Linked DNA regions of Homo sapiens. The protein of the gene in region 3 purifies or fractionates together with the protein of the main gene of each other region. This does not show direct contact. Each region holds a gene or a part of one and is shown on either strand. Other genes may lie near its edges. The genes, in order: ZC3HAV1, CMA1, USP48, WDR76, PXK, CLEC3B and SLC9A3.

Region 1 (4,169 bases), on a different chromosome or scaffold from region 3:
GAAAGCAGGGTTTTCAGAAGGCATTTGCACACCCATGTTCATAGCAGTGTTATTTACAATGGCCAAAAGGTGGAAGCTTACAGAAAAGTCCTTAGGTTACTCACCATTAAGCGGACAACCCTTACACAGATGGTCAAGACAAATTTCCTCTGAGTCATGATCATCCACCCTAGAAGATGTGGTACTTGTGACATCAGATAAAGAATCTATGAAACAAAAAAGGATGCATGTATGCTGATCTTAATGTTTAAACCAAAAATCAAAGCACTTGGTCTCACAATGGGAAAGAATATCTGAAATGGGGGCCATGTTCAAGAAAATTCCTATGATTTATGTTTTGCCCATGAGCATCTAGACAGCCCCTCCATAAAACAAAAATGTGGACCTCAGAGTCCTGTGAAAGCTATGTTTATTTCTTAAATCATAGTTGAAATATTCCTATTGTCAATAAATGTGGCAGTTTATTCCCTGTGGTTCTACTGGTTGGCCCTTCCCTGTCTTCACTAGTCAATCTCCTCACCAGACCACCCCATAACCAAAACCCTCTAACTCTCTACCCTTTAAGAACTGGGGAACATCCAAGGAAAAACCACCAGCCATAGCCACTCTGCTGCAGACTCAAGACACAGAGGCCCCTTTGTCCTTCAGTGACTTACACTGAGCAGAGCCTGTTGTCTTCCTTGTGAGCTCGCTGGCAGAGGAAACAGGAACCTGGGTGCAGTTCTGCCCTTGGGCCCCCCAGACTGCAGCTCTGTTGCTTGAGGAAAGGGCAGCAGGTGACTGAGGCAGAGTGCTGACTTGTGCAGGGGCAGTGGATTCCCCAGGTGTGGTGGGGACCAGGTTCCTCAGACTCTGACTTCCAGTACGTAACATATCTTTTTCTGCCTTGACTGCCATTGTTAAGCCAAAACCAGTGGCACCAGTTTTTTCTACATCAGTAGTTTTATCCACTACTTGACTAGAGCCATTTGGTATATCATGAACAAATGTACTAGCCCAAAGTGTCTTCCCTTTGTATTTACCGTTAACAAGTGCTACTCTTGGGTCAGCATCATCTGCGATTCTGCCAGTGGCCTGGACATCTCGGGAAGCAGGTCCAGCATCCTGAATCCTAGGTGATGATATTTCTCTGTGACCGCTGCTAGTGCTTTTGTAATTTAAGGATCTGGTAGAAGTTATATCTGTGGCCACTCCATCAGCATTATTATTAAAAAGAGGGCCAGGCTGGATGTCCTGAGTTCCACTTTTGCCATTGATGATCCTGTAGTCTGAGGAAAGCAAGCCTGTGCCCTTTCTGGTGGTCACAGCTTCAGGTGTTTGCAGAGAGCCAAGAGAAGAGCGGGCGGCAGGTAGCGTGGGAGAAAACACAGTCTTTCTCCTGGCGCCTTGGTCATTCGTCCAGGATGTGAGGCTCTTCCAGTTGGGGGCTGATGTTGAATTGGAAGCAAGGTAAGTGCTGCCTGGATTTCCATGCAAGAGGTCCTCTTGACTGCCGTTCTCTAAAAACCTCTGGCTTGTCCCGGCCTGACTTGTTCCTCCAAGATCAGTAGCCTTGGACGAGCCTGAGGGAGGCCGAGCGCGATCCTGACTCCCCAGATACGTGAACTTGCGGGTGAGATCGTCCACAGGCGCGTCCTCCAGGGAAGCCCTGTGGCTGATCTGATCTGGACTAGGTGTGCAGGACCTCTCAGCAGACGCTGAAGCAGACGCAAGAAATTCTTGGCTGCCCTGAAAGAACCGATCTCTACTCTTGCTTCTAGCCCTATATGCCATGTTTCTACGATGTGAAGAAGGAGCTAAGGGGAAAAAAAGCCAAAATGAAACAAAATAATGAACATTGGAGTTAATGTGACTGAGTTCCTACCACCCTTCCTCCTCTTCACTTTTGTAGCTTTGCTATCCAAGTGCTATCAAATTACTTGGCGTAATCTGATGTGTAAAAATCTTGAAGATGGGTGGTTTGACACTGACGGTTTTTTTTGTTTTTGTTTTTGTTTTAAGAGATGGAGTGTTGCTCTGTTGCCCAGGCTGGAATGCAGTGGCCCGACCACAGCTCACTGCAAGCTCGAACTCCTGGGCTCCAGCGATCCTCCCACCTGAGCCTCCTGAGTAGCTGAGACTACAGGTGCTCACCAACTGTGTCAGCTGATGAAAGAATCTTGACATTCTGCCTGCACGGCAGAGCACGTCATTCCATGGCCTAGGATGACAGTGAGGATCAGCTCTAGGATGACAGTCCCCGGCTCTCTTCTGGGACTCAAAGTAGCCCCCAAACCCCAAAACTTTTAGGTGGGGCTGTCCACTATCTCCTGGTCCTGAGTCAACGTTCATCACTGGGGTCAATGGAGAGATAGATTAGGGCAAATCAGAGAAGATTTTCCAGAAAGCATTCGATTTTGCCCATATCGTGATACGGGTGTACCTGGCTATTGACAGATTCACAATGCTCAAAGAAACCAACAGAAAATGAAACCACAGTCTAAAGGCCTGACTTTGTTTAAGCTGGAAATTTTTCCAGTTTTCTTCATCTCACTCCATAAGGCCAAAGTATATCAGAAGTCAACATCGACAAAGCAGTGTGGCCTGCAGGGAATTGGCCTTCCTCTAGAAACTTGATAGGTCACACCCTTCTGGAAGCAGGGAGGAAGGAAGGAGTTAGGGTGTGTTTGTGAGCGCGTGTGGAGTGTGTGTGGCGTGCATGCACGTGATGTTTATGTGGGGTGTGTTTGTGTGCCGGGGGTACATGTGGAAGATGTGCATGTCTGTGTTTGAGGCACATGTGCACGTGTGGTGTGTGAATGTGAGGTGTGCATGTGTGCTCGTGTGTGTGTGTGAATTGTGCTTTTTTGTGTGGGGAAGGGGTAGAAGAGACATTTTTTTTCTCTTCCAAACCCAGGGGGCAGTAGTTATGTAGTAAAAGCAAACACCCTCCTCCTGTCAAGAAAAGGCTTAACTCAGGAGATTAACTGGAAGTGAAAATATATACAGATCTTTCTCATTCACAATAAGTTTACATTGAGAAGCTACCACCAAAACCCATCCCTCCAGACATTCCTCTGTTCAGAGGGAACTGTAGTGAGAGAGAAAAAGCATTAGATATGGGATCAGAACATGCACTCTGCTACTTTCTAGTGATGTGAGGCCTTGAAAATGTTACCTTTTATTTCTTCATTACATTATCCTTCATTCTTCTAAAAATGAGCTGAGGCTGCTTGCAATAAACATTGCTTACTATTTCTGAGCCTCAGTTTCTTTACCCTCTTAAGTAAGGCTAAAAAATGACATATCTACCTTTCTTTGTGGTTTCACTGTGAGGAACAATGATGAAATATTTATTTGGGATGAAAGTCCCTTGTAAATGATAAACCATTTCCCAAATATAAGGAGGTTTAATTGTTCATTAATTTGCACAGAATCCTAGAATCATGTATTCTATCTGCTTCATAAAATTCATCTTTCCTACATCCACTTCATAAAGACATTAAAAATGAATGCCATTATATAATATGAAAATGCTTCAGAAATAGCAGCACTTGGCTGGGCATGGTGGCTTACGCCTGTAATCCCAGCACTTTGGGAGGCTAAGGTGGGTGGATCACTTGAGGTCAGGAGTTCAAGACCAGCCTGGCCAACATGATGAAAACCCGTCTCTACTAAAAATACAAAAATTAGCTGGGAGTGGTGGCAGGCACCTGTAATCCCAGCTACTTGGGAGACTGAAGCAGAAGAATCACTTGAACCCAGGAGGCGGCCGGCCATTGCAGTGAGCCGAGGTCGCACCACTGAACTCCAGCCTGGGTGACAGAGTGAGACTCTGTCTCAAAACAGGAAAGAAAAAAAAAAGTAATAGCACTTCATACTCCTTAGGATGGCTATTATTAAAAAAAAAAATCAGAAAACACAAAATGATAGAGGATGTGAGAAATTTGAACCCATGTGCACTGCTGGCAGAAATGAAAAATGGCACAGCTGCTACAAAAAATGGTATGATCGTTCCTCCAAAAATTAAACATAGAATTACCATATGATCCAGCAATTCTACTTCTGATTATATACCCCCGAGGAACTGAAAACAGGGTCTCAAAGTGGTATCTGTACACCATGTTTACAGCAGCATTATTCACAATAGCCAAACTGGAAATGGCCCAAATATCCATCGACAGATGAAT
Region 2 (4,725 bases), on a different chromosome or scaffold from region 3:
ATCTTATATCTTGCTTATAATTGAAAATGTTCTTAGTGCTTCTGAATATTACTAAAGATAAATCAGAATTGGTATAGGGTTGATGATTAAGGCAAAGAAGGATTTGGTGTCTTTTCTTAAGCTGGAAATATGGATCCTGCCTTTCCAGGGAAAATCTCTTCTTTTTCCTCATTTTTTTTTCTTCATTAATTCCTCTCTATTTCTCTCTCTCTCTCTCTCTCTCCCTCCCCCCCCATACACACACACACACACACACACACACACACACACACACACACAAACCCCTTCCAAATCCTTGGGTGCTTGGGCTGGGAATCAGGTCACTATGTGCAGGGAGAAGAGAGCAGCAGAGAGGGGACACACACTCACGACTAGAAGCTGTGTCTTCACTGAGGTTTATTGAGAGTTCTGTGACCTGTAGGATACTTCTGGAGGCTTAGGGTTGTGGCTGAGGGACCAAGGGTAGACCAGAATGAGTGGCACACACTTTGCTGCTCAGGTCCAGTTCCAGCTTCCCTTTCAGGCTGGCTCAGGATCCAGGATTAATTTGCCTGCAGGATCTGGTTGATCCAGGGCCGGTAATGGGAGATTCGGGTGAAGACAGCAGGGGGCTTTGCATCCGACCGTCCATAGGATACGATGCCCTGGGCCACCCCAGCACACAGAAGAGGGCCCCCAGAGTCTCCCTGTAGGGGGAGGAGAGAGAGAAGAAGGTGAGCCCGGGAAGTCCTCCACTCCTGTCTGCCAGCCAGCTTGGAGTCACAGTGAGACCTAAAGTCAGACGCAGGAGGTGGAGCTCCTCACTTATACATCTAGTTCTGATGCCCCTTCTTCCTTTCTTGGGACCGTCATCCACATTCTCCACATCACCCCATGCCCCCAGTGCAGTAGACTGGAATGGATGGTCAGAGGCTGTCTTGGACCACGGGAGGACAGCAATTCCTGTGATGCTCACCCTGTCACTGACTGACAACCTTCTGACCCCATCTCCTTCTAAGAGCATTCTGGTCCCTGAACAGTGAGTTTTGGAGAGGAAACCTAGTTGGAGGATCACCTTAAATGCAGATTTTGTCTTCCTGGGATTGCCCACACACAGCTGAAGATTGTGGTCAAAGTCTCTGAAGTGGCTGCAGGCCTGGGGATCCATGAGTCTCAGCTTCACCTCTTGCAGAGTGTCTGAGCCCGGCTTCAACACACCTGTTCTTCCCCAGCCAGCCACCCGGCACATTCTCCCAGGTGGGACAAAGTTGAATTGGGATGGGAAGGGGAGTGTCCCCACAGCCAGGGTCAGGCTGGCTTTCTCCTTCAACTGTGAAGGGAATGAAGGACTGTCAGTCCTCGAAATGGGCTCTGGACAGTTGGAGGTGATCAGGGAGGGACAGGGTGAGTAGCTTCATGTTATAGCCAAGTCCTAAGAAAAATTCAGGGCAATGAGGACCTGAAGGAGAAGCTTAGGAGAATGGGAAGTGGAAAGGGAGAAGAGAGGTGTTGTCACCTTTAGTAACATGATATCGTGGTGAAGAGTAGAAGTGTTATATTTTGGATGACGGAATTGCTTTATAACCTCAAGCTTCTGCCATGTGTCTTCTTCCTCTGTTATGTTATGGGCTCCAAGGGTGACTGTTATAGACCTGTTGTGAGGAAGAAGGAAGGAAAAGGAGCGACAGTGATGGCTTGGGGTTTCTTCTGAGGTGAGCTCATTCTGAGAAAAGAGGACTAAACTCTGTCACTGGGTCGCCGGACTCTACCCATCTCCCTTTTCATGGGCCACTTGTGGCATTTGAGGGCTCAGGCTTAACTCATGAAAGAGCTTTCTCAGGAAACAGACACAATTTCTACGACCCCTGGAATTGCTGGGGACTGAACAGGCCAGGGAGGACTCAGGGGACAGGGTTCACACTTCCTAATTCAGGGAACCCTGCATGAGGGCCAGCCCCTGAAGCAGGAGATATCAGTTAAACGGGAAAGTGGGGGTCTCATGTAGACCCTGTTCTCTGCCTCCCATAAAATGATGGGTTCAGGACCCTGAGAACTAGAGGCCAGTGTTCTTGAAAAGGCCATAGAGGAAGTGGCCCTGAGACTGGGTGGGGCCCTGAAAAGTGAGCCGTGTGTCTTGAGTTGGGTAGGGGTGAGGGGTGCTACTGCAACAAGAGGGACCTTGGACAGGACCTCCTTTTCCTCCGAAGGGGAGCTTAGCTCACAGTGACTGAGGCTCAAGGAACTATTCAAACACAGACTAAAGTCTTTCAGCCCAAGTCTTCCCTCTCCTGAAAGTTGACAAGACCCAGGACCCCCTCTTCAGTCCCCAGTGCAGGTGTATTCCTGGATGCTACTCTGGTTGTTCATCTCCCATTTGGAGATAAATAGACCCTGTTGTCTCACCTTCCTGCACAATGAGCAGCCGTCAGCACAAAGTTCCGTCTTATAAGGAAACCACCACAAAATTTTGAGGGACCGTTGGAAGTTACAATTTCCAGGTAGGCCATGTAGGGGCGGGAATGTGGCTTGCATTCTGTGCCCCCGATGATCTCCCCTGGAACAGAGCACCCCAGGGTTTGAACACGGCCATAGATACTCTCTCCAATGAATGGACAAATTGGGTTAAAGCTGAGCTAGGCTTCCCTGGAATCTCATTCTCACCCTGTGTTCCGCCCATCTTCCCTCTCCTGTCTCCTGTATTTCGTATCTTTCCCCACCCATAACCTCCCAGGTGAAATCTCATTCTTGCCTCTGCTCCATTCTGATGTTTTCATCTCAGACTTCTCCCACTCCCACCTTGCCCTGGCCCACCCTCCTCTGTCTCTGTGTAGGACCCACTGTCCAGGTTCCTGTTTTAGATTTCTCCATAGCTCTTGAGCATGGTCACAGAGTGAGAAAGTCACAAAGTAATGGGTAGCCCTGATGCTCAGAAGATTAAGAGGACATGTCTGTTTTCCTGGGGATACCCCTTTTCCTTCCACTTGCTCTGGGCTTTTCTACAATTGAGGTGAAATTCCTTGTTCCTGGGGGCTGTCCTAGGCTGTAGAGAATGGCAGTGGGTGGGGGTGGGGGTGGGGTGGCACACATCCCAAGTGGAAATTTCCCTCTGGGACTCTTGAAGAGAGATCTTGGAACCCTGTTTAGGAGTCAGCTATTTTCAGACTAAACATCTTTGTTTCAGGAGCTGATACTGCAGATTTCAGAGGGAAGAACCCTGATACTCACCAGCTTCAGCTCTGGAGCACAAGAGAAAGAGCAGCAGGGGGAGAGGAAGAAGCAGCATCTTCCCAGAGAGGCTGCCTGAGCAAATGCTGGTTTTCCTTTCCAGTCTTGGGTTTTATAACTCCCAGAAGGCAAGAGAGGGGCAAGGCTGGTAACCACAGGAACTGCATGGTCACGTTTTCTTCTCTCACTCTGAATTGGCTGTTTCTGATCAGAAGTTCCCCTAGAATCACCCAGTGTTTTTCTAGAAAGGAACTTGAGCCCTGAACTCCCAAGTGCTGGCTTCTCAGATGTACCCTCAACTATGGTGACTTTTCTGGAGTTGGGGGCAGGAAATGGAGGGACCATGTTTTTCTTTCCCAATTAGGGCAGCTTGTGAAAGGCCCACTGAACGTTCAGTGCAAAGACTTTTATGGCTATGTTCCATAGTCAGAAATGCATATTGCAGAGTCCCAGTGCATGCACATATGTATGTGTGAGTATGTAAGCACAAATTAAAGGTTTCAGGAAACAATCTTTATCTTAACCATGTGCAGTGTTTTCTGTTAGTTTCCATTCCACTCCACTCCACTCCATTCCACTACACGTCAAAACTTGAGCAACAACCCCATTTAAATGATAATTCCTTGTAATTTGAAAAACATTGACCTGGATCTCTCTCCTCCTCTGAACCACATGTTTTTGACAGAAGAGAGATCCAAGGAGGGTAGATGTGGGAAAAGAACAGACCCTAGGACAGAACTTTATGCAAAGAGCAATTGGGATTGGAATTAGCATTTTCTGAGAGTCTAGGTGTATCATATATTGTCACAACTCTTAGATATATTATTACTTTCACGGCAACCCTATCAATATGTATTACCATTATGATCATTATCATGTCATGATAGTCAATTTTTTAAATCAGCTATCATAGCTTATGGTTCAGAAATAGATTTTCCTGATATCAAATCAAGGTCCCTTTCTGCTCTAGCACTAGAGAGAAATAGAGGAATAGAGTCCTGCCAATGTGCAGGGGAAGTAAAGATGTAGAAGGGTGTTTGCTCCAGAGAGGTTGGGGTTTCCTACTGTTGCATTAAGAATCAAGCTTTCCACAACAACCTGGGGACACACCATTACTGTCACTTTACAATTGTAGAATTGATACTCAGACCCATTAACATGACAAAGATCACACACCTTATAATATCAGAAGTGGGTTTCAAGCACATAGCTTTTATTTTCCCTGGACTTACAGAAAGCAGTCCACATGGTGGACTGTCATTTCTCTTGGAGATTTATAAGGCATTTAGTTCAAAGACGGGGATGAGTAGTGTATAAGTGCCTTTCCCAAATCATCTCACTATGCCCTTGGTCTCAGGTTGGGCTTGTGACCAGAGTGATCCACTCCTTAGTATATATTGGCCAGGTCCTCTGTTGCTTTTAACTTAATTTCCCAAGTTCTACCTACAGCTCTAACTCTCTCTAGAATAAGACATTTAAACACATCCGTAATGTCTTTTCAAATCTGGTCTTCTTAAGTGT
Region 3 (4,169 bases):
AAAAAAAACTAGGCCAGGCGTGGTGGCTCGCGCCTATAATCCCAGCACTTTGAGAGGCCAAGGCAGGTGGATCACCTGAGGTCAGGTATTCAAGACCAGCCTGGCCAACATGGTGAAACCCCGTCTCTACTGAAAATACAAATGTTAGCCAGGAGTGGTGGCACGGACCTGTAATCCCAGCTACTTGGGAGGCTGAAGCAAAAGAATAGCTCGAATCTGGGAGGCAAAGGTTGCAGTGAGCTGAGATCACACCACAGCACTCCAGCCTGGGAAACAGAGCAAGACTCTGTCTCAAAAAAAAAAAACCAAGAAAGAAAGAAAGAAAAAAAGAAAGAAAAAAGAAATATTCGGCCGGGCGTGATGGCTCACGCCTGTAATCCAACACTTTGAGAGGCTGAGGCAGGCGGATCACATGGTCAGGAGTTCAAGACCAGCCTGGCCAACATAGTGAAACCCCTCTCTACAAAAATACAAAAATTACCCAGGCATAGTGGCAGGCACCTGTAGTCTCAGCTACTTGGGAGGCTGAGGCAGGAAAATCGCTTGAACCCAGGAAGCAGAGGTTGCAGCAAGCTGAGATCACACCACTGCACTCCAGCCTGGGCAACAGACTGAGACTCGGTCTCAAAAAAAAAAAAAAAAAAAAGAAAGAAATATTCAATAAGCTCTTGAAAATCAGTAAGAAAATGACCAACAATCCAGAACACACAATTCACAGGAGAAATACAAATGGCAAGTAAATATAAAAAGGAGAAGGGACACAGTGGCTCACGCCTGTAATCCCAGCACTTTGGGAGGCCAAGGCTGAGGATTTCTTGGGCCCAGGAGTTCAAGACCGGCCTGGGCAAAACATGAGATCCTATCTCTATAAAACTAAAAAATAAAATTAAAAAGATGCTCAATGTCACCAGCAAAAAATGGCAAATGAAAATAAGATGCTATTTTTCGCTAATCAGATGGAAGCTGGGAATAGAAATGCTTTGTATAAGGTAATAGGCACACTCACTCTAGAGGACCAGGATAAATGGTATGAACTTTTGACATCTATCAAAATTCTAAGCAGTCCCTTTACCTCAGCAATTTCTCATCTAGCAACCTAAGTGAAAACACTCACTCAACACTCAAGATCGATGCAGAGGGCTGGCTAGGGCAGCACGGGTTGTATTATCAAAAACCGGAAACCCCAAAGTCCATCAACAGGAAACTGGTTAAATAAATTATAATGAAGGTTAGGCACAGTGGCTCACACCTGTAATCCCAGCACTTTGGGAGGGCAAGGTGGAAGGACTGCTTGAAGCCAGGAATTCAAGACCAGTCAGGGCAGCAAAGCAAGACCCCATCTCTATTTTTAAAAAACTATGTAACTGGCTGGGTGTGGTGGCTCTACTAAAAATACAATAATTAGGTGGGTATGGTGGCATGCGCCTGTAATCCCAGCTACTCGGGAGGCTGAGGCAGGAGAATCACTTGAACCCAAAAGGTGGAGGTTGCAGTGAGAGCAGATAACGCCACTGCACTCCAGCCTGGGTGACAGAGCGAGACTCCGTCTCAAAATAATAATAATAATAATAATAATAATAATAATAATAATAATAAGGCAGGTATGTATTTGGGGCTCCTGCTAAATGAGATTTTAGCTTCTCTTGCCACACACAAAATTTGTAACTGTGAGATAACAGATGTCAATCTGCTTCATTACAGTTACCATTTTACTATCTGTATGTATGCTATGTTATATATCATAAACATACATAAGAATATTTTTTAAGAAAGAATAGGACCGGTCGCAGTGGCTCATGCCTGTAATCCCAGCACTTTGGGAGGCCAAGGTGGGCAGATCGCGAGGTCAGGAGATCGAGACCATCCTAGCCAACACAGTGAAACCATATCTCTACTAAAAATACAAAAATTAGCCGGGTGTGGTGGGGCGCCCCTGTAGTCCCAGCTACTCAGGAGGCTGAGGCAGGAGAATTGCTTGAACCCGGGAGGCAGAGGTTGCAGTGAGACGAGATTGCACCACTGTACTCCAGCCTGGCAACAGAGCAAGATTCTGTCTCAAAACAAACAAACGAAAAAAGAATAGCCAGGTGCGGTGGCTCACACCTGTAATCTCAACACTTCGGGAGGCTGAGGTGGGCAGATCACCTGAAGTTAGGAGTTTGAGACCAGCCTGGCCAACATGGTGAAACCCCGTCTCCACTAAACTACAAAAATTAGCCAAGCATGGTGGCCCATGCCTGTTGTCCCAGCTACTCCGGAGGCTGAGGCCCAAGAATCACTTGAACCTTGGGAGGCGGAGGTTGCAGTGAGCCAAATTCACGCACTGCACTCCAGCCTGGGCAACAAAGCTAGACTCTCTCAAAAATAAATAAATAAATAAATAAATAAATAAATAAATAAATAAATAAGGCAGCTCTACATGCATGAATAGAAACAAGTTGCAACAAAGTATGTATTGTGACTCCCCTTTGTTCTTTTTCCTTTGAGACAGGGTCTTGCTCTATCGCCCAAGCTGGAGTGCGGTGGCATGGTCTTGGCTCACTGCAACCTCCACCTCCCAAGCTTAAGCCATCCTCCCACCTCAGTCTCCAGTGTAGCTGGAACTATGGGTCCTCGTTAGGGTTATTTTGTTTGGTTGGTTGGTTTTTATTGAGACAGAGTCTCACTCTGTCACCCAGGTTGGCGTGCAGTGGCTCAATCTTGGCTCACTGCAACCTACACCTCCTGGGTTCAAGCAATTCTCGCGCCTCAGCCTCCTGAGTAGCTGGAATTACAGGTGTATGCCGCCACCATGCCCGGCTAATTTAGTAGAAATGGGTTTTTGCCATGTTGACCAGACTGGTCTCAAACTCCTGACCTCAAGTAATCCTCCCACCTCGGCCTAACAAAGTGTTGGGACTACAGGCGTAAGCCACCGTGCGTGGCCCTCATTAGGGTTTTGGGACTAGAGCTACAAAGCCACTGAAGTAAGGTGGCATGACACTGGCTTTCTAGAGTGCTTCACACATTTCTGTAATGTTTTAATTTAGTAATAGTCATATGATGTTTCCCTAATGAGAACAAAACAGACATTGTACTCCCTATACACGGCTGGAAGCATAAGTAAATCCAGCCTTTGAAAATTCATATCAAGGCTGGGCATGGTGACATGCACTTGTAATCCCAGCTATTCAGGAAGCTGAGGAAGGAAGATCCCTTGAGCCCAGGAGTTTGAGACCAGCCTAAGCAACATAGTAAGACCCCGTCTCAAAAACAAAACAAAACAAATTTCACATCAAAAGATTAACTGTAACAAAAAGAAATTGTAACAAAATAAATACATATTAAACATATGAAACCCTTTGCACTTAGATCAGAAAGTGTGACTAACACATTATGTTGGTGAGGGTATGATGTATATGTAAGATACTCTTACACATTGACAGGGAAATGTAAAGAGAAACCCTCATTCTGAGGGGCAATTTAGCAACATGGATCAATATGAAAAACACACATCCCTTACCCAACAATTTTACTTCCAGGAACTTACTTGACCACCAACCTCACTGTTAACAAACAAGTCTGCCCTCAAGACACATAATATTTGCAGAATTCTGTGGACAGAGGATTTAGTACACACTGCTTTCATCCTGTGATTGCCCTAAGTACTTTCAGAAATGTAAACAGTCCTGACACATGTGGTCTTTGAATATGGTCAAACACCTCATTCTTCAGCTTTGGTATCTCATAACAAATTGTTGCATAAAGTATGAAAAATACATATTGGTGATACTATTTATTTATTTAGTCTCTTCTTGCAAAGAGAAGAAATAAACAAAAGGAGAAAGGCTCATGTCTGGAATCCCAGCAATTTAGGAGGCTGAGGAGGGAGGACTGCTAGAGCCCAGGAGTTTGAGACCAGCCTGGGCAATGTGACAAGACTCTGTCTCTATAAAAAAGGAGAAAGTGAATAGTGTCTTGTCTCAAAAAAAAAAAAAAAAAAAAAAAAAAGAAGAAAGTGAGTAGAAAGAGAGCTTTTTGGATATCTAAATAAAAGCTGACAGGGCCAGGCACAGTGGCTCACGCCTGTAATCCCAGCACTTTGGGAGGCCAAGGCGGGGGGATCACTTGAGGTCAGGAGTTCGAGACCAGCCTGGCCAATATGGCAAAACCCCATCTCTACTAAAAAT
Region 4 (4,580 bases), on a different chromosome or scaffold from region 3:
CCCTGTTTTCCTGGAGAACTCCCCTTGCAAAATCTTCTTGGTGGAAAGGAAGCTCAAAGACCAGAATACTAAAATAGGACTTAAGCAACTCAGATTCTATTAATTCCTAATCATTTGTGGTCTCTCCTAGTCTGACAAAGTCTCTGACAACCAAAAATGAGAATTGTCTGCTCCTTCCTTAAAAGTTACATAACAAAAGCCTGGGTATCTTAAAAAAAAAAAAAAAAAAAAACTCAAGCGGAATTCAGAGCTTAAGAGATATCATAAAGGCCAAACTTACAGAAAAGGCTTATCCCGAAGGAGGCAATCATAATACACACATAATTACAGAAGCCACACAGCTGTAGGCAAGTCTGTGGGAGAAGTACCTTTCACTACAGATTACAGTGTAAGAATGTCCCAAGGGAGACAATTTTCTTTTATGTGCTGTCTAGATTTAAACAATTACTCCATTAGAAAGCTTATCACCAATAAAAAAAAAAAAAAGTCCCTACTCATTCTCCTTCCTTCCTGCACTGCCTGAAGATATAACTCTATAAAGTATAACTGAATATAAATAGCACTGTTTATGAAGCCACAATGGCAAAAGAAACCACAAAAGTGAGGAACATCAAGAATTTGCTAACATTTATTGACGAGCCCAGGCAATTACTGCCAAGTATTCAAAGCTTAAATGATGGTACTAATTTGATTGAGAGTAGTTTTCAGCATCTTTAAAAACAAAAACAAAAACAATTCCCGTAGAACTAACCACTCTAGAACCCATGAGATTAATTGGTATAGAAATGAAAAAGGGAGCCTAAAGCCTTTACGATGTTTCCTGAACAGTTTAATTATAACTCAACCTCACCTAGCTTTTCTTTCCCTTTATAAATTAACATTTCCATCTCACTTGTCAATTCTTCTACTTATATCAACTAGAAAATAGAGAACTATTGCTTATAAACACCTAAACCTATTAAAAAACTAAACCTTTTTACACTTAGATTACAGAGAAGAAAATTATTTAGAAATTGGTTTTCAAGGAAATTGTATATCACTATATTTCTCTGATATACAATTATGGGAAAATATTTCCTCTTAGAATTCAAACATATTGCCAAAGCCATTTACAAGTCTTTCAGTATTTGGCAATGAAGAATAATGAAAAAAGTTGGATAGATGTCACACAGTAATATTAGTAACTGATTTGGCAGCTCCCCTCCCAACAACAAACACATTGAAATTACCATAACTTCTGAAAAGAAAACATTTTCATAAAATACCAAAAGTGGTGAGTATTTCATAATATTCCCCCAAATACAAGTAAGAATGAAGGTATTCACTTAACAGGCTATTGAATTTCCTTCGGACAGTTTAAAGATCGGGACAGGTAAGCCTGGGGCCTTCTTCATTCTAAGCAGTAGCTTTAACTTCTTTATCCATTACCCATGGTACTATAGTAATAAAATATATATATATATATATTTTACATCAGAATACACATAAACATATATACCTAACAAATATATATGCATATGTAACTAAGTTTTACCAAACAATACTTACTCAAATATATTTTCTGTTCTTTACAAATTCTTTCCTTTTCATTTTTTTCAACACCAGTCATTGTCATCTAACTTGATTTCATGTGAAGAGCAAAAACCCAGTCTGAAAAACACAGGTCTGAGGCAATCTTATACTGGAATGCCGGGACCAGGGCAGATCCCAACCCGGTGCTTGGGAGTCCTGCCTGTGTCTCAGGAGCCATCTAGAGTAAAGGCAAAGTACAGACAGACCCAGACCCCGCCCTGGGTAACCAAAGCTGCTCAGCAATTATCTTGGCATTTCACGTAAGACTTAACCTACAGGCAGGGGGCAAAAAAAGTTCTCAGTTAAAAAAATCAAGTTTTAAAATCACTGAGTTACATTACCTTTCCGGGTCCCCTTCCAGTGTATGAGTCTAGAAATAAGTATTCATTATAAACTATAAAATAAGCCACAAATTACTATAGAATCAAAACTGTATCATTAGATCACAAAAACTTTAATAGTCAAAGCTTTGTAATTTATAATGTTAGAATTTCTCAACATACTGTCTTGATTACAAGTTCTGATGGCCAGGCATGGTGGCTCACGCCTGTAATTCCAGCACTTTTGGAGGCCGAGGCGGGCAGATCACCTGAGGTCAGGAGCTCGAGACCAGCCTGGCCAACATGATGAAACCCCATCTCTACTAAAAATACAAAAAAATAGCCAGGCGTGGTGGCAGGTGCCTGTAATCCCAGCTACTTAGGAGTCTGAGGCAGGAGAATCGCTTGAACCTGGGAGGCGGAGGTTGCGGTGAGCCAAGATCGCGCTATTGCACTCCAGCCTGGGCAACAAGAGCAAAACTCCATCTCAAAAAAAAAAAAAAAAAAAAAGTCCTGACGGCACCTCAGCCTCCCCTCAAATTCCCTCCCCGTCCTGCAGAAGCAACCCTCCAAGACTTCTCCCTTACTAAAAGTACACTCTTCTTATAGTCTTATTAATAAAACAATGTTATAATTGCTAAATGTAACACATTACCACATAAACACACTAAGGCACGCCGATTACTAGGCTCCTTAGACAGTGGTCAATTTGAACAAATTGATGTTCCTAAACCAAAAACTCAGCAGCTTTTTTCATTCATAAAAACATGTATCTTCCCGCTGGAATTACCTCCAGCCAAAATATACCGAGTTGGGTGCATGGCATTGATGGAACACACAGAGACAAGGTATTCTCCACCAAACGAATGCACCCTCTTTCCTGTCTCATGGAAGATTTCTACCCGTCGTGGATGGGCCATGCTGCCAACTATGACACAGTCTTCTTGTTTAGGATCCCACATGGCTTGGAACCTGGTCAGCCATCGCCCAGTGAAAGTGTTGTGCCTAGTGAGGAAAACAATATATTTTTTAAATGAAGTAAGGTTAAATAAGGTAGCATTGGGCAGAGGGTAAAGACGGCATTGCTCCTAAATGCTAGTTTTCTCTGCCAAGTTTCTTCTCATTAAGTTACTGAGTTACCACCAACCTTACCTCATCCTTACAGGACTGAACCTCTGGACAGAGACGATATCCTCCTCATCTAAAAATCTCCCAAAATAAAACATATGGAGCCCTTTATAGTTCCCAAAAGCAAAAACAGAAGTACTGCCCTTTTAGTCTTTTTGCCTTAATATCACTAACAATCCTTTTTCATTAAAGTATGGACTACACATTTCCCACTGCCACTTAAATGACCCCATCATTAATGAAAATTCTTACCCCCTAGAATAGTCACCCTACATAAATTTTTTAAAAATATACATAATATGGCCAGGCACAGTGGCCCAAGCCTGTCATCCCAGCACTTTGGGAGGCCGAGGCAGGTGGAACACCTGAGGTCAGGAGTTCGAGACCAGCCTGTCCAACACGGCGAAACCCAGTCTACTAAAAACACAAAAATTGGCCAGGTACAGTGGCTCACACCTGTAATCCCAGCACTTTGGGAGGCCAAGAGGGTGGATCATTCAAGGTCAGGAGTTCGAGACAGCCTGGCCAACATGGTGAAACCCCGTCTCTACTAAAAATAGGAAAATTAGCTGGCCATGGTGGCGGGTGCCTGTAATCCCAGCTCCTAGGGAGGCTGAGGCCGGAGAATCACTTGAACCCAGGAGATGGAGGCTACAGTGAGCCAAGATTGCACCACTGCATTCCAGCCTGGGCAACAGAGTGAGACTCTGTCTCAAAAAAAATAAAAATAAAAATACAAAAAGTAGCCAGGCATGGTGGTGCTTGCCTGTAATCCCAGCTACTGGGGAGGCTGAGGCAGGAGAATTGCTTGAACCCAGGAGATGGAGGCTACAGTGAGCCGAGATTGCACCACTGCATTCCAGCCTGGGCAACAGAGTGAGATTCTGTCTCAAAAAAAAAAATAAAAATACAAAAATTAGCCAGGCATGGTGGTGCTTGCCTGTAATCCCAGCTACTGGGGAGGCTGAGGCAGAATTGCTTGAACCCGGGAGGTGGAGGTTGCAGCGAGCTGAGATCGCGCCACTGCACTCCAGCCCCCGTGTCAGAGGGAGACTCCATTTCAAAAAATTAAAATTAAAAATTAAAAAATAAAATAAATATACATAATACTGGCTGGGCACAGTGGCTCATGCCTATAATCCCAGCACTTTGCGGGGCTGAGGAAGGTGGATCATCTGAGGTCAGGAGTTCAAGACCAGCCTGACCAACATGGTGAAATCCCATCTCCACTAAAAATAGGAAAGTTAGCCAGGCATTGTGGCTCATGCCTGTAATCCAGCTACTCAGGAGGCTGAGGCACGAGAACTGCTTGAACCCAGGAGGCGGAGGTTGCAGTGAGCCCAGATCATGCCACTGCACTCCAGCTTGGGCAACAAGAGCAAGACTCCGTTTAAAAAAAAAAAAGAAAACAAATAATTAAAAAATGGGCAAAAGATCTGAATACACACTTCTCAAAAGACGATATACAAATGGCCAATTATATGAAAATACGTTCAGTATCACTAATCAGTGAAATGCAAGGTAAAACCACAATGAGATATCACCTTACATCTAGTAGAA
Region 5 (4,169 bases), on a different chromosome or scaffold from region 3:
CATATGTTTTTATTTGCTGGAGTTCCAGGCCCTGAATCTTCTTAGGGTTGCAGTACTTCTTTAGAAATGGGTCTTTTGGTTTTGCCTTTGGAAAAGAACAAAGAACACGTAAGAAAGCAGCAGAGGGGCCAATATCTGCACACAGACTCCCTGACCAGGCAGGATTCTACAGAGGCTAGGGGCGCCAGAGATGGCCAGCTGCAAGATGTGAGTTTTTAAAATACGACAGTCTGCATTGTTGATAGAAAGAGGCTGACCCAGGTTCCATCCCTTCTCTAGCCCAGTGAAGATGTGCCTGGTCTTGCCCTTAGCAGACCCCAAAGTCTTGCATATTGTTCGAATTCTTCAGAACTGCTTTGTTAAGCGCAAAACACAAACTTAAAAACTGACCTAAGAGAACAGCTTGCCATGTAATGGACATAATTATTAAATGTTCAACCTTTCCTCACATGGGAAAAGGAATGCTCTTTAACCAAACTAAGTAGAGTTTTTATTGCATGAATAAAAATAAATTCCAAATAAAATCAAAACTAACATCAAATCCTCAGGGCCTAGCCTCTGGAGTCTTAGAGACTAAGTATCAATAACAGGTTCTAAAGGAACTTGAGAATTCCTTATGACCATGAACTTGCACAGGTACCTTGTAGATCAGATCCTTCAATGTTCCCTTTTCGTTAAACATCCTAATTAGCAACGCTGAGGATTCATTAGCTGTGGCAAAGGTAACCCGATAGATGTAAGGGTGCTGTCAAAACAAAAAAGAAATTCACATTGATTTGCGTCAGGATCTAGGTCCTTTTAAATACAGGATCTGGTTATGCAGAGTCAAGTAGCACTGTGGTGGTTTAATTGCATACGAATGTAGTGATATTCCCTGAACACATGGCATTTTCAAGTTATTCAGTTACCAGCTAGTTCCTCCTTCTTCAGATGGAGGAAGGGACATAAACTGTAGGAACAAAGGAAAACAGGAGACAGATAATGGATGTGGTAAACTCCACAAGTGAAGGGGTCCTCTTTGGTGTGTGCACTCTCATAGCTCAGGCAAAAGTGTGGTGGAAGAGATAAAATGTCTGAGTTTTGAGGATAATAGTGTTAATATCCTGTCTCTGTAAGTCAGTAAAGAATACAGCCAAATCTCAGAACAGCCAAATGGAGACCAGGATCAATGTGTCTTTGCTCACAGCTTTGCCTAACATTCCACACTGCTGTTTGGGTGCCAAGCCAAGAAGCATACTAGCCAGAAAACAGGCAAAAGTAGCATCTTCTGGAATCTCAGCCCTTTCCACAGTAGCTGGCATGAATCTTCCTACCCTTCTATAGAATTCTGCAACATAAAGATTCACAGTGTCCTCCTCAGATGGAGAAACTGACATTAAGCAACTGGGGTGGAGAAAAGACAAATTATTTAATGAGTGAAAGGAAAGTGCTGTTTTTCCCTGGAATTCTGGTTACGTGAAACAAACTGGGTCCAGACAGGTATTACAATGTTCACTAGCTCAAAGGAGTATCATGAAAATTTAAACCCATGGGAGCTGAGCTATGCAGGGATTTTGGAGGCTGGCATGCAGCAGGTTGGGGGGTGGAAAGGTGTACCCAGGAAAACAGAGTAATTGATCATGAAGTTCTCCTGATCATCACATCAAAATGGTTGCTGCTGACTTTTTAACAGCTTTGTTGAGATATAATTCACATGCCATTACTATTCACACATTTAAACTGTACAAGTCAATGATTTTCAGTATATTCAGTTATACAACCATCATACAATCTAATTATAGAACATTTTCATCACCCCAAAAAGAAACACAATGGGTAGAATAAAAATCCTTGAGTACATACTAATATAAATTTTTTTAAAAGGGAGAAGAGAAGCTCTTTAGAGTAGAATGCCAACTAATAAGTAAATACGGAAGGAATAATAGAGTTAGAAAATCACATTAAATGTTAAAATGCTAGTGGGCTTCATAAAGAACAGAATATGTAGTGTCACAATATCTCCTTACACATTGGTTATTAATTATAGGTATTTACCTTAAGAAATTAAGTATGGGTATAATGTTTAGCAAAAATTGTTCATTATGGCTTTTTTCTTTTTTAAAAAATAAGAGCAAAAAGCTGGAGGTGATCTAAATGTCAATAGAAGATTGAGTAAACTAAGGTATAGCCAATGATAATTCTATACAGCCCATAATAATGATGCTATATTTACTAACAACTAAAGATGCTCATGGTACACCATTAATGAAAAAAAAATCAGGTTTTAAAGCACTACATATATAATTTACTTTTTTATCATAAAAATTCTTAAAAAGTAACAACTGAATATTTTGGTTCATACTTCTGTTTGACTGGGATTACTGGTGAGTTTTCTTTTCTTTTCTTTCTTTTTTTTTGAGACGGAGTCTGCTCTGTTGCCCAGGCTGGAGTGCAGTGGCACGATCTCGGCTCACTGCAAGCTCCGCCTCCCGGGTTCACGCCATTCTCCTGCCTCAGCCTTCCTAGTAGCTGGGACCACAGGTGCCCACCACCACGTCCAGCTAATTTTTTCTATTTTTAGTAGAGACAGGGTTTCACCATGTTAGCCAGGATGGTTTCGATCTCCTGACCTTGTGATCCATCCGCCTCAGCCTCCCAAAGTGCTGGGATTACAGGCATGAGCCACCACACTCGGCTTATTTTCTTATTTTTGCTTATCTGCCTTCTGACTTTGCTACAATTAATATGCACCATTTTTATGTGCTTCTTTTTTTAAAGAAGCACTTCTATTAAAAGAAATTTAGGGCCGGGTGCGGTGGCTCACACCTGTCATCCCAGCACTTTGGGAAGTCGAGGCAGGCGGATCATGAGGTCAGGAGTTCAAGATCTGCCCGGCCAACATGGTGAAACCCCATCTCTACTAAAAATACAAAAATTAGCTGGGTGTGGTGGCATGCACCTGTAATCCCAGCTACTTGGGAGGCTGAGGCAGGAGAATCGCCTGAACCCAGGAGGTGGAGGTTGCAGTGAGCCGAGATCGCACCACTGCATTCCAGCCTGGGTGACAAAGAGAGACTCCACCTTGAAAAAAAAAAAAAAGAAATTTAGAACTAGGTCCTGACAGCCTATGTCACACAACCAATCAAGCTCTAAGACTAAAGCGTCTTTTTGGCCTCACATTGCACCTCATTAATAGCTTGGTTTGCAAGCTTGACAAGACACTATATGGCCAAAAATAAACTTGCCAAACCAAGTGCACAAGTCAGTGTAATTGTGTTCAGTTCGCTAGTGATTCATTCCAGGGAACTACATCTTCATGCAGACAAGATAAAGAATGTCAATGTTAACTCAATTTCCTGGCCAGATTAGTCTTTGCTGAAGACATTCTGCACATATTTTGAAATATATCAACGTGGTTCTTTGCACTGAAGGCCCTGGATTAGAGCTGTGTAGTCGTGTAAATAATATCATGTATTCCTAAAGGTCATCTGGTTAGCCTGTGAAGGTAGTAACTCAGACAGAAAAATGGCTATTTTGCCTTTTCTTCACCCAGCTTATCTAAATTCCTCATTAGTTCTGTTTTCTCAGGCTGGAAAGAGTATCTTTCAGTTCCACTGAGATAAATACCTTCACCAAGAACAACAGGCTGGGAGAAGTAGCTGCTTCCCTACTCTCATCTTTGTTTAAAATTCAAAGTCTGTATTTAAATTACTATGTTTCATGGGTTGTGCAGATGTCATGAATGCCATTTCAAATAGCCTATGATCTAAGAGATTAGCCCTACACAATTTCAGTCTGACCTGAAATCCACTGTATCTCCCCATTCTGTTTTCCAGCTTTTCTGTCCATGTTCACCCAGAAAAAATACTGTGACTCTATCATCAGCACTGAGAATAAAAGAAAGACGTATACTCACCAAACAAGAAGGCAGAAGTTTGATTAGACACTGAAAATCTTTATCTGACAAATACTTGTCTGGGCCAAGGTCAGCCTGAAAACATGGAAGGGAATATCAGGGTACTGTTTTGGTCACCAAAAGAAAAATTCCTTGTCTTTCCCTTTAATTTTATTATCCAAAATATGACTGGAAACCAAAGACGAAAACAACACTAAGTCTGGCTGCCTCAAGACCTTTCTGGAGAAGCAGTGTGTAAAAATACCAGACTTAACTGTAATCTTATCTAATTCCA
Region 6 (4,623 bases), on a different chromosome or scaffold from region 3:
AAAGAGTGAGATCAGAGCCTTCGTCCACCCATAAGGTGCCTTTGCAGAAGAATCACAGGCAAGACACATGGTTGTGTATATAGAAATTAGCGATGTAACTTACCAAACTGGAGCAAAAACACCCTGATGAGCAAGGCAAAAAAAGGGAGAGTTTGGGGCTGGCAAACCAGCCTGAGGTCATGTGTGCCTCACACAGAGACTGCCTCCACCAGTTATAGCAGCACTGTACCCAGTCACGTGATGTACCAGCATAGGGTGCCATGTGAGGCTGTGCAAGGGGGCACTGAAGAAGGGCATTCTGCTGAGGGACACATGAAGGCCCATTTGTCTCCTAAGCCTTGCCCTGGCTAGAGTGGGTCAGACCAGAAAAAGAGATGCCTTTCTATAATTTGTCAGTTTAGAGGAGGTACCTTTTGTAATTTGCACCAAGGTGCCCATATGTGCAAAGTTTCCTCCAGGGACTGTCCAAGGTACAGGAAGCTACTCTCATTAGCTCCACCTGAGGAAGCTGTGGGAGTAGGTGTCTCTACGGCCCTGGGCAGAGTCAGGAGGCCTTTGTGCTGGCCCACTCTCTGAGCCTCAGGTTCCTTCTGCGTGATGTTAGAATGGATGCCCTCCAGGTTCCCCCAGTTCCCTGTTCTAAAGGCCTGTGACTCCTATGAGGCCATCCTTCCCTCCGGAGCTTCCCTGCCAGGTGTGACCATGTGGCCCCAAGAACAGATGAGCTCCCAGAAGTACTCTAGGCTCCCCGCTTCTCACCCACCCTGAGGGCCAGGACAAGGACTTAGCATATGCTGGCATTCCCTTCCTTTGCCAGTCCTGCCACTTGCTCTCCCCCTCTTGGCCCTGGCACCAACTGGTCTCCTCTGGCATGACCGTCCCTTCTTTGGACTTTCTCCCGTACTTTTGGGCACCAGCCCTGCAACTAGATTGCCCCTGAGATTCTCATTCCTGGCTGCTCCTAGGAATCCCTGAAGACCTGTGGAAAAGGCAGATGCTAAACTCACCAAGATCCCTAAACCAGCATTTCCAGGGGTGGGGCCCAAGCACCTGAATTCTTAACTTTTATTTTATTTATTGATTTATTTTTGAGACGGAGTCTCACTTACTCTGTCACCCAGGCTGGAGTGCAGTGGTGCAATCTCGGCCCATTGCAACCTCCACCTCCCAGGTTCAAGCAATTCTCCTGCCTCAGCCTCCTGAGTAGCTGGGACTACACGTGTACACCATCACACTCAGCTAATTTTTGTATTTTTAGTAGAGACAGGGTTTCACCATGTTGGCCAGACTTGTCTTGAACTCCTGGCCTCAAGCGATCCTCCCACCTTGGCCTCCTAAAGTGCTGAGATTACAGGCTTGAGCCACCACGCCTGGCCAAGGCACCTGGATTCTAATGTATCTCCCAGATGATGTTGATGCCTGAGTGAGAACCACCATGGTTCATGTCTTAAGAGCAGAGACGGTGTTTCTCTGCTGTGTGTCCAGCATATAGACTGGTGCCTACGTGGAGAAAGAGCTCTATAAGTGCCTGCCATGTTGGTGGGCGGGAGACTGCCATGGGTTTCAGCGAGAGGCAGGGCCTGGGTGGCTGTTCTGTTGGCCTGTAGCCCTGGAACTCCAGGGGCCCCTTCTATGGAGACCACATAGGGCCAGGGTTCAAGTGTGACAGCTGGAGAGAACCAAGGCATCACGTGCTCTGACCCTTTTTTTTTTAACATGAGTTTAAAAAGATTTACATAATTATATTAATACTGAATCTTTGGTAAACTTGAGAAGCTGGCGATGGTTTTCCACATTCAAAAATTCTATGATTTGCCTTTGGAGCTGCATCTTTTACAAAGGCTCTCCCTTGGTGGCGATTTTGGCTAATGCTCATAGACGTAACTATGCACGGTATTGTCTTCTCTTTTTAAATGAACATTTTGTGGAAGGTAATATACACACATAATTTTTTAAAATCCAAACAGTTCAAAAAGCTGGTTTCTTTCCCAGTTGAGACTGCGCCCAGCCCCTGGTTTTTCTTCCCAGAGGTAATCACTGTTACTCACTCTTGTGGATCCTTCCAGAAAGAACTTATGCACATACAAGTAAAAATGTATTATTATATAAATCCCTTTTTCAAAGCAAATGTCAGCATCATACTCATTCTCTTTTGAATGTTTCTTTTTTCACTTTGTAAACTGAATCTTGAAGATGATTTTTTTATCAGCAGCCAGATTTGCCCCATTCTTTGTCACAGTGTTGTGAGGCCCCATGGCCCCGATGTCCCTTTATGCACTGCACTAGTTCCTGGCCAGTGGGCAACTGTCCATTTATGAAGAGCCCCGGGAGGGCCTAAGGGAGGCCCCCACAGCCCCTTCTTTCCTTTTCTGTGCCCTTGGTCCTAGCTGCTTGTTTCTCTGCCTCAGTCCCCACCCTCATCCCCTTGGACTCTCTTCTAGCCTCTGCTCCCTGGGGGGGTGACAGCCCCGTCCATTGCCATGACATTCCACTGATGTTGTCTCAACACAGCCTGGGGTGACCTCACTGCAGGCGGGGCTGCAAGGGCAAGTCTTGCTGTAGCCAAAGCAACCGAGGGACACCCCAATCCCCAGAGGCTACAAAGCAGAGCAAAGCTGCTTCTGGTGGACTAGTCTGAGTTACATTTATTTCCTGAAGGCTGTGATATGCTACAGAAATGAGAATTCATTTCTTCTTCTTTTTCTTTTCCCTGTGCATCAAGCAACAAGTGAGGTGCCTTTATATATTTTGTATCATAAAATCTTCATGAGAAGTCTTTGAACAAATACCACTGTCCCCATTTTACAGTTGAGAAAACAGGTTGGAAGACTCCAAAGCCCAGCCTGTGCAGCTCTCCCTGGTAAGGGCTGAGCGCTGCCAGACTCCCAGGCCAAAGGTTTGGTTTCTTTAAAATATTGGGGATGAGGGGAGGAGAGAAGAGCAAAGATCAGTTTGGATGATCTGGAAGGTTCTTCCCAACTCTAAGGGTCAGGGATTCTTATGATTCTGACAACCAACTCTGCTATGAGAGAACTCCCCCAAGCCCCAAAGCCCACTTTACTCAAGTTCCCTAGATGACTCAAAAGGAGGAAAATGAAGGAAAGGAGCATGAGGACACACTAAGGAGAGGGGGACCTGCTCCCTGGAAGATGGCACAGGGCTCTGTCCCCCTCCTTACCTTTCTTGGCATTTACAATCTTCTTGGGCTTCTGGGTTGGTGGCTCGGTGGTGACCTGGGTCAGGAGGGAGAAGAGGCAGAGGAGGAGGTAGGCCCCCCAGAGCTCCATGCTGCTGCGCGGGCGGGGGCTGCTGCTGCCTGCAGCGGGTCTGGGTCCGAACGCAGTGACAGCCACGGCCCAGGCTGCACGTCTTAAGGCAGCAGCCAAAGGACCTCTGTCCAGGAAACCCTCCCCAACTTGGCTGCAGGCGTGCCAAAAAAATAAAACAAACACACAAGCCTGCAGAAGGATGAAGTCCTGAGGGCCACAGAGCCTCTCTGCCAGGGAACACCCACGCAGCATCCTGGCCCTGCCTTCTAGAAAGAAGCCCTTATTTCCTAGGATTCTGAGAAACACACGGTGGTTGTCATCACATCTGCGGAGCAGCTACCTTGGGTAGGGGCTGAGGCTGGCTGTTCACTAACATTAACTCACAGAAGCTTCACACCCAAACCACGAGGGAAGCACTGTCCTTTCCCCATTTTACCATTGAGGAAATTGAGGCTCGGTGAGGTTAGGGAATTTGCCCAGGCTACCCAGCTGTCACGGGGTAGCAATGCCCCCTTATAGGGTGATCTGGGGCTGGCTGTCTGATTGGTTTAGAATATTTGTTATGATTATTTTGTGGCTCTGTCTCCATGTACTTGATGCATTTTTTGGTTAAAAAATCCAAGGGATTCCTTCCCTTCTTGTCTTCCCTTTCTCCTGAGTCCTGTCCTAAAGCCACAAAGTGGGGCATAGCAAAGGTGGCGGAGGGAGAAGCCATCGTGCCCCAGAGGTACCAGAGAGGATGTGGGGAGAATGTGCCCTCAAGGGGTGGACTGGTGTGGGGTGTGGGAGCCCAGCAGGGTGGAGGGAGCATCCTGGGGAAAGCAAAGGCCCTGCCTGGAGTGCTGGAGTCCAAGTGAGGCAAGGAGGGGATCCATGTGGGAGAGAGGCTGGTGGCAGAGACGGGAGATTGGTTACACACAGGGATACTGATCAAATAAATCTACTGAAGACAGTGGGAGTTAGGTTTCCTATTGTCAGAGAAGGAAGTTATGTATATGGAGAGAAAACTGGAATGAATCCTGTTGTGTGGGATTAAAATCGGAATGATCAGTGTACCCTTGTGGCCTTGAATACATAAAGATAAGTCCATATATATAGATGGAAATGTGTGTGTGTCTAGTCCCCACAGTCACTGGGGGGCCTGGAGCAGCCAGCCCCGCATAGCCTGGAGCACTCCTAGCACCTGAATACTGGCTTCTGAATATGACTTTCCACTAAAGGAACCAGAGCACCTTGCAGAAACGGCTGATTCTAGCACTGGGAAGTAGGAGTGGGGTGCAGAAAATGAGCCCGGAACTTGTTGTTTTGCCAGAAAACAAGGAAGTGCTTAATGAATAATGGGAACACGTCAGTA
Region 7 (4,169 bases), on a different chromosome or scaffold from region 3:
CGAGAATGTCCGGCGGTGGGCACAGCTGTGACCTCCGTGCCTGATCCCGCAGTACAAGCATCTGTACAGCCGACACGAGCTCACGCCCACGGAGGACGAGAAACAGGACCGGGAAATCTTCCACAGGACCATGCGGAAGCGCCTGGAGTCCTTCAAGTCGACCAAGCTGGGGCTCAACCAGAACAAGAAGGCGGCCAAGCTGTACAAGCGGGAGCGTGCCCAGAAGCGGGTAAGGCTGGGTCACCAGGAGGCTTGGCGGGGCTGGGGCCTGGAGCGGGGGCAGTCAGGGCTGGGTGTGGCTGTGTCGGGGTGTGAGCAGCTTCACGTTTGCTCCGCAGAGAAACAGCAGCATCCCCAATGGGAAGCTGCCCATGGAGAGCCCTGCGCAGAATTTCACCATCAAGGAGAAAGGTGCGCTGGGGGCCCTGCAGGAACGCTGGGACTGGGAGCCACCACCTCCCAGCCCCAGCCCTCCCGGCTCGGGAACCTCCCCTCTCAGGACCTTCCCCTCTGGGGACCCTCCAGCCACCCAGGCAGGGGAGGCATGGTCAGGGCCCCAGCTGCAGACCCACCCAGGATGGGGTTCCAGGGACACTGCCCTCTAAGTGGGGTCCCTCCTCCAGCCCTGCGGTTTAGCCCTCCTCTCTGTGGGTCCCGACTGCCTGCACCTCTGTGCACAGAGCTGATGGACACTGCTGACTGGGCTGTGAGGACAGCCCCCCAGTGACCCCAGTCCTCACCCCAACCTGTCTTCCCCAGACTTGGAACTTTCAGACACCGAGGAGCCCCCCAACTATGATGAGGAGATGAGTGGGGGGATCGAGTTCCTGGCTAGTGTCACCAAGGACACAGCGTCCGACTCCCCTGCAGGTGGGGACGGGGCACAGGCGTCGTGGCTAAGGGAGGGGTGGCTCCTGCCGCCCCAGGAGGGAGCTCGGTCATTGGACCAGGGGCACTGGGACCTGGGGGGGTGGGGTCTCCTGTGGGTTCTCAAGGGCCCTGCTTGGCACCCACTGAGTGCCCCCTCAACCAACTCGGAGGCTGCTGTCCGGGGAGACGTGGGCCGGGCAGGGAGCAGGTGGGGTATGTCTTGAGGGAAGCGAGACGTTACCTGTGCTGCCTGTGGCGTGTGGGGTCATGGATGTGGGGGAAGGGCCCGCAACCTGAAAGGCACGTGACCCTAACCTTCCCGGTGACCCTAACTTTCCAAGGCACCCAGCAGGTGACGGCCCCGGCGAGGTCTCCCCTGCCGCCGTGGGGCTCTCCGAAGGCTGACTAGCCGCTGCCCTCTCTCCTAGGAATTGACAACCCTGTGTTTTCTCCGGACGAGGCCCTGGACCGCAGCCTCCTGGCCAGGCTGCCGCCCTGGCTGTCTCCCGGGGAGACGGTGGTCCCCTCGCAGAGGGCCCGCACGCAGATTCCCTACTCTCCCGGCACCTTCTGCCGCCTGATGCCCTTCCGCCTCAGCAGCAAGTCCGTGGACTCCTTCCTGCAGGCAGACGGCCCCGAGGAGCGGCCCCCCGCCGCCCTCCCCGAGTCCACACACATGTAACGCTCCCGGGCCTCCCGCCGCCTAACCCCTCTCCGCAGCTCCTCTCCCTCCAGGTCTCCGCCTCGCGCGCGCTGTCTCTCTCCCTCCCCGCCTAACCCCTCTCCGCAGCTCCTCTCCCTCCAGGTCTCCGCCTCGCGCGCGCTGTCTCTCTCCTCCCTGGACCTGAACCTGGCTCGCTCTCTCTCTCCCCGCCTAACCCCTCTCCGCAGCTCCTCTCCCTCCAGGTCTCCGCCTCGCGCGCGCTGTCTCTCTCCTCCCTGGACCTGAACCTGGCTCTCTCCCTCCCCGCCTAACCCCTCTCCGCAGCTCCTCTCCCTCCAGGTCTCCGCCTCGCGCGCGCTGTCTCTCTCCTCCCTGGACCTGAACCTGGCTCGCTCTCTCTCTCTCCCCGCCTAACCCCTCTCCGCAGCTCCTCTCCTCCAGGTCTCCGCCTCGCGCGCGCTGTCTCTCTCCTCCCTGGACCTGAACCTGGTTCTCTCTCTCCCTCCCCGCCTAACCCCTCTCCGCAGCTCCTCTCCCTCCAGGTCTCCGCCTCGCGCGCGCTGTCTCTCTCCTCCCTGGACCTGAACCTGGCTCGCTCTCTCTCTCTCCCCGCCTAACCCCTCTCCGCAGCTCCTCTCCTCCAGGTCTCCGCCTCGCGCGCGCTGTCTCTCTCCTCCCTGGACCGGAACCTGGTTCTCTCTCTCCCTCCCCGCCTAACCCCTCTCCGCAGCTCCTCTCCCTCCAGGTCTCCGCCTCGCGCGCTCGCTCTCTCTCCTCCCTGGACCTGAACCTGGCGCGCTCTCTCTCTCCAGCAGCCCCTCTTCCTCCTCTAGCGCCCTGCTGGCCGCACCTCCCTCAGGAGCCCGGACAGAGATACTCTGGCGTCTCTGCTGCTCCCACGGAGCTGAGGGCACTAGGGCCGCCTGAGATTTCCTTTAGGTGGCTCCGAAAGCTAGTCCGCGAGTCCAAATCCTGCGCTCCCAGGGAGCTGAGAGCAGGGCTGGGGGAAGCCAGACAGACGCCCCGGGTCCCCGACCCTCTCACAGGGATACAGGGAGGGCCGGCCCCGCAGACCCGGACTCTGCCTCCAGCTCAGAGCAGGGAGAGGGGCGGGCCGTGGGGTCTGGGCTTTCTGAGCTCCCTCTGGGGGCCTGGGAGGCACCCGGGGGACGCCAGGGCGGTTTGAGATGGAGGAAGCAGGTCCCCTTGGGGACCTTGACCTCCCGCGCTGCAGGGCCTGGGGCGGGACCTTCCTGCGCCGAGGAGGCCGCTGTCCCGGGACCCCCGGCGGGGGGACGTGGCGGGGCCGGGCTGGGGCTTCGCTGTTGCTGCTTCCGCCTCTGCCCCGCGAACCCGGGTCCTGGGAGGAGGCCCCAGCGGACGCCGAGCCTGGGGTGCGCCGCGGGAGGGGAGGCGAGAGCCGCCGGGCTCGGGGACAGCTGAGGCCCCCGGGGACGCCCCTCCCGCCCCAGCGCCCGGGCTCCGCGCGCCGCTCACGCCTTCCTCTCCCGCAGGTGACACCGGCTCCGACACGCCGCTAACCGGCCGCTCGTCCCCGCGCCACGGTCCGCCCACCGCCGCCGCCGCTGTCCCAGAGAAACCCCAGATCCCCGCGCGGCTACAGCGACCGCGAGCCCCGAGCCCCGCCTCGCCCACGCCAGCGCCTGCGCAGAACTCCGAGAGTGCCGCGCCTGCGCCCGCAGAGCCGCCCGAGGGCGAGCCGGGGGCGGGGCCTGCGCCGGGGGCGGGGCCGGAGCGCCGAGGGCTGCCGAGTGCGCACGCGCGTTCGGCGGCGGCGCGCCGCGTGCACAGCCGGCGCTCGTTCCAGCGGCCTCGCGCGCGCCGCCGCCCCGCGCTGCTGAAGCTGGCGTCGCTGCCGCCCTCGTGCCACGCACCGCCGCACGCGCTGGAGCAGGAGGAGACGCCGCTGTGACGCCGCCGGCGGGAAGGGTCCGCGCGCCATGGCTGGCCGCTCGCGCCCTTTCCCACCGCTGCCGGGAAACCGAGGCTCGCCCCAAACGGATTTGCGTGAAACCAGCCCAAGGTTCCGGGCCCCCCCAACCGAGCCCCGCGCCCGGGGACTGACTCGGGGACCGACTCAGGGACCTCCCGAGCGCCAGGACTCAGGGCCCGACCTGCAGCGGCTGCAGGCCCAGCGCCCGCAAGCGGCCTGGGCCGAGCGCCGTTTCCAGGCCCTCGCCAGGTCTTTGAACTGCAGGTAAAGTGGCAGGAACGTCTTCCGTCTGCTCAGCGTTTGGGGATTTAGACTCCTAAAGCCAGTACCTGCCCCGTTTCCCCCCCAGGTTCCGTCCTGCCCGCGCCCGGTCTCAGGGTGGCGGCCCCGGACACGGCCCGTCCCCACAGACGAGGTCTCCGGCCTGAGCTGTCGCACCTGGCGCGGAGGTCGCCCGGGGTGCCCTGGCTGGGTGAGAGGTGGCCTGGCGGGCGGAGCTTGCCAAGAATCACGGCCAGTCCTTAAGTGGATGGTGGGGCCCAGCAGCTGCTCTGTCCCCCTTAACAAACCAGGGGGCATGGAGGGGCCCAGGGCACCGCCCCCCTACCAGGCTCAGGCCCTCCAAGGAGAACCTGCTGAGACCCCTGAGCCTGTCCTAGACCCCGGACCCCTGACCCTTCC

Evidence for each region.
Region 1: the proteins of USP48 (region 3) and ZC3HAV1 purify together in Homo sapiens (affinity purification with mass spectrometry; 2 studies listed by BioGRID, with this or other methods). This does not show direct contact.
Region 2: the proteins of USP48 (region 3) and CMA1 purify together in Homo sapiens (affinity purification with mass spectrometry, with the first as the bait; one large-scale study listed by BioGRID). This does not show direct contact.
Region 4: the proteins of USP48 (region 3) and WDR76 purify together in Homo sapiens (affinity purification with mass spectrometry; 2 studies listed by BioGRID). This does not show direct contact.
Region 5: the proteins of USP48 (region 3) and PXK purify together in Homo sapiens (affinity purification with mass spectrometry; 3 studies listed by BioGRID and IntAct, with this or other methods). This does not show direct contact.
Region 6: the proteins of USP48 (region 3) and CLEC3B purify together in Homo sapiens (affinity purification with mass spectrometry, with the first as the bait; one large-scale study listed by BioGRID). This does not show direct contact.
Region 7: the proteins of USP48 (region 3) and SLC9A3 purify together in Homo sapiens (affinity purification with western blotting; 2 studies listed by BioGRID, with this or other methods). This does not show direct contact.

What each region holds. Positions count from the first base shown.
Region 1 is NC_000007.14:139,078,448-139,082,616, forward strand, and holds part of ZC3HAV1 (zinc finger CCCH-type antiviral protein 1), read right to left. Parts: intron 1,797-4,169; coding exon 1,023-1,796; coding exon of another isoform or gene 657-1,022; intron 207-656; coding exon 105-206; intron 1-104.
Region 2 is NC_000014.9:24,504,974-24,509,698, forward strand, and holds CMA1 (chymase isoform 1 preproprotein), read right to left. Parts: upstream 3,293-4,725; 5' UTR 3,263-3,292; coding exon 3,205-3,262; intron 2,534-3,204; coding exon 2,383-2,533; intron 1,632-2,382; coding exon 1,496-1,631; intron 1,310-1,495; coding exon 1,055-1,309; intron 687-1,054; coding exon 543-686; 3' UTR 380-542; downstream 1-379.
Region 3 is NC_000001.11:21,772,629-21,776,797, forward strand, and holds part of USP48 (ubiquitin carboxyl-terminal hydrolase 48), read right to left. Parts: intron 1-4,169.
Region 4 is NC_000015.10:43,864,445-43,869,024, reverse strand, and holds the end of WDR76 (WD repeat-containing protein 76), read right to left. Parts: intron 2,898-4,580; coding exon 2,633-2,897; 3' UTR 613-2,632; downstream 1-612. UniProt on the Homo sapiens protein: Specifically binds 5-hydroxymethylcytosine (5hmC), suggesting that it acts as a specific reader of 5hmC.
Region 5 is NC_000003.12:58,391,574-58,395,742, reverse strand, and holds part of PXK (PX domain-containing protein kinase-like protein), read right to left. Parts: intron 3,971-4,169; coding exon 3,896-3,970; intron 746-3,895; coding exon 641-745; intron 86-640; coding exon 1-85. UniProt on the Homo sapiens protein: Binds to and modulates brain Na,K-ATPase subunits ATP1B1 and ATP1B3 and may thereby participate in the regulation of electrical excitability and synaptic transmission. May not display kinase activity.
Region 6 is NC_000003.12:45,025,027-45,029,649, reverse strand, and holds the start of CLEC3B (tetranectin), read right to left. Parts: upstream 3,348-4,623; 5' UTR 3,288-3,347; coding exon 3,179-3,287; intron 1-3,178. UniProt on the Homo sapiens protein: Tetranectin binds to plasminogen and to isolated kringle 4. May be involved in the packaging of molecules destined for exocytosis. Plays a role in retinal function.
Region 7 is NC_000005.10:472,262-476,430, reverse strand, and holds part of SLC9A3 (sodium/hydrogen exchanger 3 isoform 1 precursor), read left to right. Parts: exon of another isoform or gene 1-52; coding exon 53-229; intron 230-338; coding exon 339-411; intron 412-759; coding exon 760-870; intron 871-1,111; exon of another isoform or gene 1,112-1,294; intron 1,295-1,298; coding exon 1,299-1,548; intron 1,549-3,031; exon of another isoform or gene 3,032-3,048; coding exon 3,049-3,052; 3' UTR 3,053-4,169. UniProt on the Homo sapiens protein: Plasma membrane Na(+)/H(+) antiporter. Exchanges intracellular H(+) ions for extracellular Na(+) in 1:1 stoichiometry, playing a key role in salt and fluid absorption and pH homeostasis.